Linked DNA regions of Homo sapiens: regions 2 and 3 are each linked to region 1. Evidence: fine-mapped expression QTL. A gene starts in region 1. Each other region holds a variant in brackets. All regions are shown on one strand. Distances are between the middles of the regions. Region 1 holds the start of KCNA2 (potassium voltage-gated channel subfamily A member 2). Region 2 has its middle 13 kb from the start of KCNA3. Region 3 has its middle 33 kb from the start of KCNA2.

Evidence for each region.
Region 2: its variant is fine-mapped to the expression of KCNA2 in whole blood (TOPMed, PIP above 0.99).
Region 3: its variant is fine-mapped to the expression of KCNA2 in whole blood (TOPMed, PIP above 0.99).

The regions. Positions count from the first base shown.
Region 1 is chr1:110,605,004-110,607,503 of GRCh38, forward strand. It overlaps KCNA2 (potassium voltage-gated channel subfamily A member 2), which reads right to left and starts at 1,355. Exons shown (of 3, transcript NM_004974.4): 1 at 1,225-1,355; 2 at 388-719.
Region 2 is chr1:110,660,039-110,662,886 of GRCh38, forward strand. It overlaps a transcript of KCNA3 not described here. Among named protein-coding and RNA genes, the nearest start is that of KCNA3, 13 kb to the right of the region's middle. The variant C/T (reference allele first, on the strand shown) is at 1,556.
Region 3 is chr1:110,638,315-110,640,814 of GRCh38, forward strand. No RefSeq gene overlaps it. Among named protein-coding and RNA genes, the nearest start is that of KCNA2, 33 kb to the left of the region's middle. The variant A/G (reference allele first, on the strand shown) is at 1,173.

The sequences.
Region 1 (2,500 bases):
GTTGCCACTTTTTGTCTCCCATCTCTCAGCCAAGAGTTCAGACACATGATCACCACCACCACAACGACAAAGCAAAATTTACTTTCACCTTGTAACTTGTCTGGGGATCAGGGGGAGCAGGTAGCAATCTCTCCAGGAACCTCTGGAATGCCCTGCATTGGGGGAAGGTGGCTGGTACAGGCCCGCTTGTAGCACACAGGCTTCATGGAGCATAACCCCATGCTAATAGGTTAAAAGTGGACCCTCTCCCAGGTGCTGCACTAATGTCTCAGATACTCATACCCAGGGAGGTATTCATGGTTGGGGAGCTTGGGCCTGGGTCTTTCTCATTGGCCTCCACCCCAGTGATTCTACACAAGGCTGTTATTAAATGATAGATTGATTTACCTGACCAGAGACGTGAAGCTCTCTTCCTTGCAGAGCTGATCAGATGCTGCAGGAATCTGAGATGCACCAACAGGCAGCCCAACTCCTCATCACGTCTTCTCACTCGAGCTAGAAATAATGGTGAGTCATTCTGGGCAGAAGGGCAGACTCTGGGTCCTGGAGGTGAGCTCTAGGATTGGGCTGGGCTGGAGGGGCGGTGAGGTGCCTGGCCAGGGGCATGCGGGACTTGAAGACAGCCGAGCATGGGCCTGGAGCCTTTTGAAGGAAGGAGGCAAGATGCAAAGCTCAGCAAAAGCTGGAGTCCTGGCTGTCCTCAGGAGGTGTGACGTTGCCTGGAAAAAAACAGCAGCAAGGTGGAACCAGGGCATTTGAACCAGCTGGTGCCAAGATTTAGGAGGGTCTGGCAGCTTCCCTCATGGGAGGTAACAGGCCCCCATGCCCATCCTCTATTCTGATGCCAGGCCTGAGGACTATCCCTCAGCCTCCTTGCCTCTTCTGGGCAGGCTTCCCATCAGCTTGAAGCATTTTCTCCCAGGGAGCAAGACTCAGGCTTGGCTGGGCCTGCCTTCTCCAGGGGCCTCCCTGGGTTGATCCAGGTTGCTAGTCCCCAGCTGCTCTCAGGAAGGACTCTGGAAGAAGCACTCCTACCCCCACATGTCAGGACACAGCAGCTCCCAAGAGGAGGGCTTAGCTCACTGCAGCCTGTCTACAAGCTCTGACCTCAGCCAGTCCTGGAAAAGAAGCACCCCACCCCCCAGCACACACACTCCTTCAGAGCGCATCTAGGGAGACCCCACACAACAAAGTCTGCACTGTACGAAAACTGGATGAACTTACTCTCCCTCCGGGATCCCTGGGCCGCAGGCCTCCCTCTGAGCCGGGTGGCATTTGAGCTGGGCAGGCGCTCGACCACTGATTTCTCCCCCAAGAGAAAATCCCTCACATCTCCTCGGCAGGGAGCACAGAATAAACGCTCCGCCTGCCTAGCTGCGAGGCGGCTTGGCAGCAGCGAGAGGGGGAGCCTGGAGGAAGCCGGCTTCCGGACTGGCCCCCTGCCGACCCAATCCCGCCGGCCCCAGGGCGGGGAGGGGTCTGGGCCCTCTCCCCATCGCCCCGGGCTCCGGCCGGGATTCCGTTCGGCGCACTCAGCGCTCGCCTCCGCGCAGAGGACCAGACCCTCCCGCTGGCCGCGGCCGCTAGCGCCACCTTAACCCCCTCCTGCCCGCGCGGTCGGCTCCTGCTGCGGGCCCAAGCGCAGTTCAGCTCTTAAGCCCCCGGCGTCCAGCCGAGGGACCGCCGAGGCTCAGTGTCCAACCCAAAATCCCGGAACCTGATCTCTGGGGGTGGGGAGTAGCCTGCGCCAGGCTGCCGCCCCAGATCTCAGCTTCCTTTTAAGCGCGGGGGCTCGGCGGCAGCCCACGGCCCCAGCGAAGGGGAAAGCCCTCTCTGCAGCAAAGCCGTTTGTTATTCTGTGCCGAAGAGGCGAATGCAGCCCGGCCGTCCCAAGTGGTTCAGGTCCTACCAACCCGCGCTATTTACCAGACATGGTTATGCTGCCAGCTGCACTTCCCACCACCCACCAGCTCCTCTCCGTGCCCTCCGCCCCGCGCCACGCAAACCCCAGAGGGTCCCGAGCCCATTCTGTGCACTCTTCTTGAGCAGGGTGCAAGTTCCCCTTGATCTCCCCGGTCTGGGACCTGCCGAGCAGACGGCAGTGGTCGGCAAGGGCTTGCCGCCGCGGACTCAGCCCAAGCCTGCTGCGCTGCAGGCTGCGCCGCCGGGTGCCCCGCAGCCCCTCTGGGCGCCGCAGCCGGGCAGGGAAGGCAGCACGCGCCGCGCAACGCCCCGACACGGATTTACCCTTCCGGATGGGCACCGGGGCCTCCATGTTCCTAGGTTACGGCCAGCGCCGGCAGAACCCCGGCAGCGGGCGGCGGCGGGGTGCGGGCGGCCAGCCGGGAGCCGGCTCTGCAGTCCCGCGGGCGGCGCGTACGGAGCTCCCGGCCGCCGCCCGCAGCCGCACCGCGCCACGCAGCGCCGCACCTGGCTCGACGGCGAACTCGAATTAAAGGGGCCGGCGGGGGCCGGGGCCGGGGCCGGGGCGACAAGCTGC
Region 2 (2,848 bases), 55 kb after region 1:
AAACCTGCATGTTGTGCACATGTAACCTAGAAGTTAAAGTATAATTTTTTAAAAAAACAGAAAATGTTCCATTCATTATATATTTTTTAAATGTTGCTTTTTAAAAACTGTTACCCTGAAAACCTCAAGCAATTTAATTGTCTAAATGTATTAACTACATATTTCTTTTAATTTGTAAGTTAGAAAACGTTTTGGAGTATGCTGAAATTATAGACATTTTTCTACTAATAATGATCTTGAAATTTAGTCCAAACCAGTGTGATAGTTTGCTTTTGGACACAAAATTTATCTTCAGCCTTAGAATCATCGAAAGGTTCTGAGTGCCTATTGATTTTTAGAAAAATGTATGTGTTAATTTTCTCAGTGTATTTCCAAGGATTTTTTTTCCTGGCTGCCCATCTTACTGTGGTAATCTATGATGAGAACTCTTGAAGTGAATAAAAATCCAACGCTAAGTGTCATGGAGAGAAAAAGAGAGAGAGAGAGAGAGACAAGACACCAAATAAGTGCTGAGAAAACCATGTTCTATGTGCTAATAGGATGACATTCCTATCATTTATCTCTTCATTATAAATAACTTTTAAGTCTGTTGATTCTTTAAAATATGAACTCTGCACAGTTATGTACCATTTTAAAATTTCCCAAATTAAGACAATAATAACCACTTGACCAGGACAAGAAATAAAGGTTAAAGATTTGGTGCTTCCCTTCCTTAACTGCCAAAATAATTATTGAGAAATTCTGATAGCAAAATATTTCTTAAGAAGAGGATAAAGCAATACAATAGACTTATTCACTTCCTACATCCAGAATCTAGAATAGTGTTTGGCATATAGTAGACACTTTATATGCTGAATTAATGAATAAATCTCTATCACCCTGGGTAGTGTCTGACACATAGGAGGTACTCAGTAAATACATGTTGAATACATAAATGGATATATAAAAATTAGATTTATGTATTCTAGAAATTTACTAACTATATAATATAAAGACAGAAATTATAAAGACAAAAATAAACCCAGCTATAAACCCAGATGCTATAAACCCAGCTCTGGGTTTGAATATGTGAATATCATCCATCACAATATGTAGAGAAGACTATTTCCCATATATACTCCTGGTTTTAGCAGGCGCCCAAAACCAGTGGTAAATGCCCAAAGATGGTGATCTGGAATTTGAGTGTGCTTTTGATGGAAGAATCATTCACTTGCTAAATTAAATACTGTATGCCTACTGTGTGCTGGGCAATCAATTAACTATCTATTGAAATTTTTTTCTTATTGGCCTGGATTATACACTCGGTCACCTTGATCTCGCAGACAGATCACTGCTCATCAGTGATTTTAAAAGTCTTAACGCTGATTTTAGGCAAAAAGAAAGAGTACGTTCACAGTATGCTTAATTTTCACTATCAGAGTTTTAAAGTTATAATGGTCTAATAGTTATTAATGACTACTAATCATAAGAAATCACAAGTAACATGAATGACCTAGCATCCATTTTATTTCCTAAGTGCCTAGGTTCTGCTCAATGCTACTGCAGCTTTGCTTAC[C/T]TTGAGAAGTCTGCATTAAGCTATTCTTGTCTTGCTGCTGTTACATTCTTTTTATATAAAACGGTGGGCCTTAAAAAACAACCTCATGTATTAATACCTGCCTCTCAAGGCTCTTGAGATTATTAAATAAGAATGGTATAAGCATGGCATCCTAATAAAGTATAGGTGTGGAGGGGGTGGTAATTCAACGAAACAAAAATAAAAGTGATATCAGGATAATCATCATAATGTCAGCCGGGCGCGGTGGCTCACGCCTATAATCCCAGCACTTTTGGGAGGCCAACGCGGGCGGATCACGAGGTCAGGAGATCGAGACCATCTTGGCTAACAGGGTGAAACCCCGTCTCTACTAAAAATACAAAAAAAAAAATTAGCCAGGCGTGGTGGCGGGCGCCTGTAGTCACAGCTACCCGGGAGGCTGAGGCAGAAGAATTGCGTGAACCCGGGAGGCAAAACTTGCAGTGAGCCGAGACGGTGCCACTGCACTCCAGCCTGGGTGACAGAGCGAGACTCCGTCTCAAAAAAAAAAAAAAAAAAAAAAAATTCAGAATGTCTATATTAGTGGTTAAGATGTGGGTTGAAAGGCTTAGAAGAATGGACCCAAAATCGATTCTATAAAATGAGAGAAAGGAAGTACAATAGAAAACAGTGACCTATAATTGAAGATAATTTACCAAATAAATGTTCCAACATATAGAACAAGAAAAGAGAATAAGAATAGTCAAATTTCAATAATTATCAAATTTATGAAGAAGTAATTAATACCTCCAAAAGGCCTAAATGAAAGAAGTACAGAAACCTAGCTTACTTAACTGTTAGTCTCATCAACTTACATTTGATGAGAAAAGAGTTGAAGTCATTCTATAGCATGTAGTTATATGGGAACTTTGTTTTCATGTGTCTATATACTTTGACATCTATTAAATTACTTAGTGTTAGCTGCACACCAATAAGTTTTACCAGTTCTACCAAGTAAATGGTAATGAATAAGCTCAAGGACTAGAAAGATTTCTTACTCGATTCTATATAATTCTCTGATTGAGGTCTTGAAAATTATGTACTCTCAGCAAGCAAAAACCTTTAATCTCACTCAGTAATTAAAGTCAGTAATATGTTAAGATGTGAGCTTTTAAAAAAATCTAGAAAGTCATGGGAAAATGAGCTGTGAGGTATAATTGATACTACTTTGAGCCGTATTTAGGTCTACTAATAATAAATATCTTCAATTTATATGGTCACACAATAAAATGCTCTTTTAAAATCAGTTAAAAGGTCTGCAGGGAAAAGATCTAC
Region 3 (2,500 bases), 33 kb after region 1:
CCTGACTTATGCAGATGTCAGAGCTCAGGCTTTGGTTCTTGTGCTTGAGCTAATTGGCATCTTTGGAGAAGCTTTTCAGCCTCTGGCCTGTGGGCACCTGTCCCTGAGGGGTGGCCCATCATTCAGCCTTGGTCTTTGCATTAGGCCTGTATAGCTACCGAGTTTTCACCCCAAGCCATGTCTGATGGCCTTTGGCTGGAATCTGGGATGGTAGAAAGCTGTTGAGACAGTTGAGTCTAAATTAAATATTAGATCTGGGTGGGTTTCACATATTTCATAGCATAACTTTGTTGGGATATTTATTTGCTCTTCTCCTGGTTCTCGCAATTTAATAATTGAGTAAAATCCGTTTTGACATTCAGCACTGATTTGCTTACATTCTGCTGAAGTGCACCTGCTCTGTGAGAGAGTGGGTGTGTGTCAGGAGGCTGGGAGAAGTGGGGGCAGACAACAGAAGCTTCAAATGAGAGACATGGCTTGGGCACTGACTTTATATGTGAAAATGTGATTCAGCCTTAAACTTGTGGGTCGCTTGCTAGATGACAAGCGCTAGATCAGACTCCAGTGGGAGAGTAAAATCATGGAAGATACCGTCTTCTTCCAGGAAGCTTGTGTTGGGGAAATAACGTCAAACACAACAACACCAGCTAAAGAGCAGAGTGCAAAGACAGGTGGCTCTCCCCTAATTCCACTGCACATACACTCACAATCAGATACACATATGTACACATTAGGTCAAACCTGTGAAGACCAAACCAGGCTCTGGGTTTTGGGATTGGGGTCATCAAGACCTACAAGTAAAATCTCCTCTTTTCAAATCTGCATTTCCTTATAGCAAAATGGTGGGAGCATAGGCCCTGGAGCCAGGGGCCTGCCTGAGAATCTGGTTCCCTCCATACTAGCTGTTTATGCTTAGACATGCCACTTAACCTGTCTGTGCTTCAGTTTCCTCATCTGTAAAATGGGAATTTCAGTGTCTATTTCACAAGTTTGCTGAGAGGTTTAAAGAAGTTAAAACATGTATGCGCTTCAAACAGTGTCTGGCACATGGGCAGTGCTCAGTAGCTATGACTATTGTTCCAAAGATCTGACCACTTTTCACTGCTTGCAGAGGTAAACGGTAGATGTTCAGACCATAAGGGAAAAACAGAGGCCCATTTTTAAGATGAGAA[A/G]GTGGGACAAGTAATAGAATATCTGCCTGGTTTCAGGAGAGGAGAGGGTCCTGGAAACTTGGTTCTTCTTACACAGCTGCTGAGCCCCAACTGAATTCAATTCATCAAAAGTATAATGAGGATCTGCTGTGCACAAGGTATGTAAGTGTGGTGGGGAAACAGGTGCTTCAAGTATGGAGCCCATCCTCTACCTCAGGAGGTGGAACAGACAGATAAAAACAAGGAGTAGAACATGATAAATATCACAAATACTCAGGAAGACCCTAAGTTGTAAGAAGAGAGGAAAGTCCTTTTGAGTGTTGGAGAAGAAGATATCAGGGACAGCATACATCAGAACAGAAAGGCAGAAAAGCTTGGCATATATTTGAGAACAGGACAGAGTCTATTTTGGTTGGAGGAAGCTTGGGTGAGAAAGGGTGTTGGGCTATCACTGGAAAGTGTGGGATGCAAAGGCAGGGTGAGTTGGCACTTCATCAACAGATAATGGAAGGCCACTGAAGGCTTTCTGAACAGGAGTAGAATCTTTTTATATTTTAAAACTAGTAGACTACAGTAAGTGAGGAAGATGGAGGGATGAAAGACGACAACTTTTGTTCATTTGTTTGTTTGTTTTGCCTGGGTGACTATCTGCATGATGGTATCTGCTAGAGATAGGGAAGTCAGAAGAAAGGGCCAAATCACTGGAGAAAGAAAATGCTTTACTTGGACAGTCTGGATGGGAAGTTCCAGTGAGTCATCCTGGTGGCAATGACTGGCAGATTGTTGGAAATGGAGGAGCTAAAGCGAGAGAGGCTAAGAATAGAGATATGGATTTGGGAGTTAGTGGCAAATAGAGTTAAACTATGGGAATGTATATGATGGCCTGAGAAGAAATTATAGGAGAAGTAAGAAGGACTAAGGGCTGAGCCTGGGAGACAGGACATGGAGGGGAAAGGCAGCTGAGAGGAGCCTTGAAGAAGACTGAAGAGGAATAATTGCTACTGAGGAGAAGCAAGGCAGTTCAGTGTGATGGATGCCAAAAGATGGAGAAGTCAAGGAGGTAAGACCCAAGGAAAGGCTACTTTTGGGCTGCTGGTGACCTGGAAGAGCCATCTGCATAGAGTTCTGGGATGGGCAGAGTGAGAGAGCATGGTAGAGCAAAGGGTTGTGGGAAGACCTGAGAGGCTTTGTAGAATTAAGGGAAGAGATGAGATACCAAGCGCATTCAGTCCTGCCTATCTTCCTAATGCATGAATTAAGATCAGAAAAGAGAACTAGAGAAAGAGGCTAGATGGCTGCGAGAAGCCAGAATATTAAGAAGTTGGTCCAGGTGAGGTGGCTCACGCCTG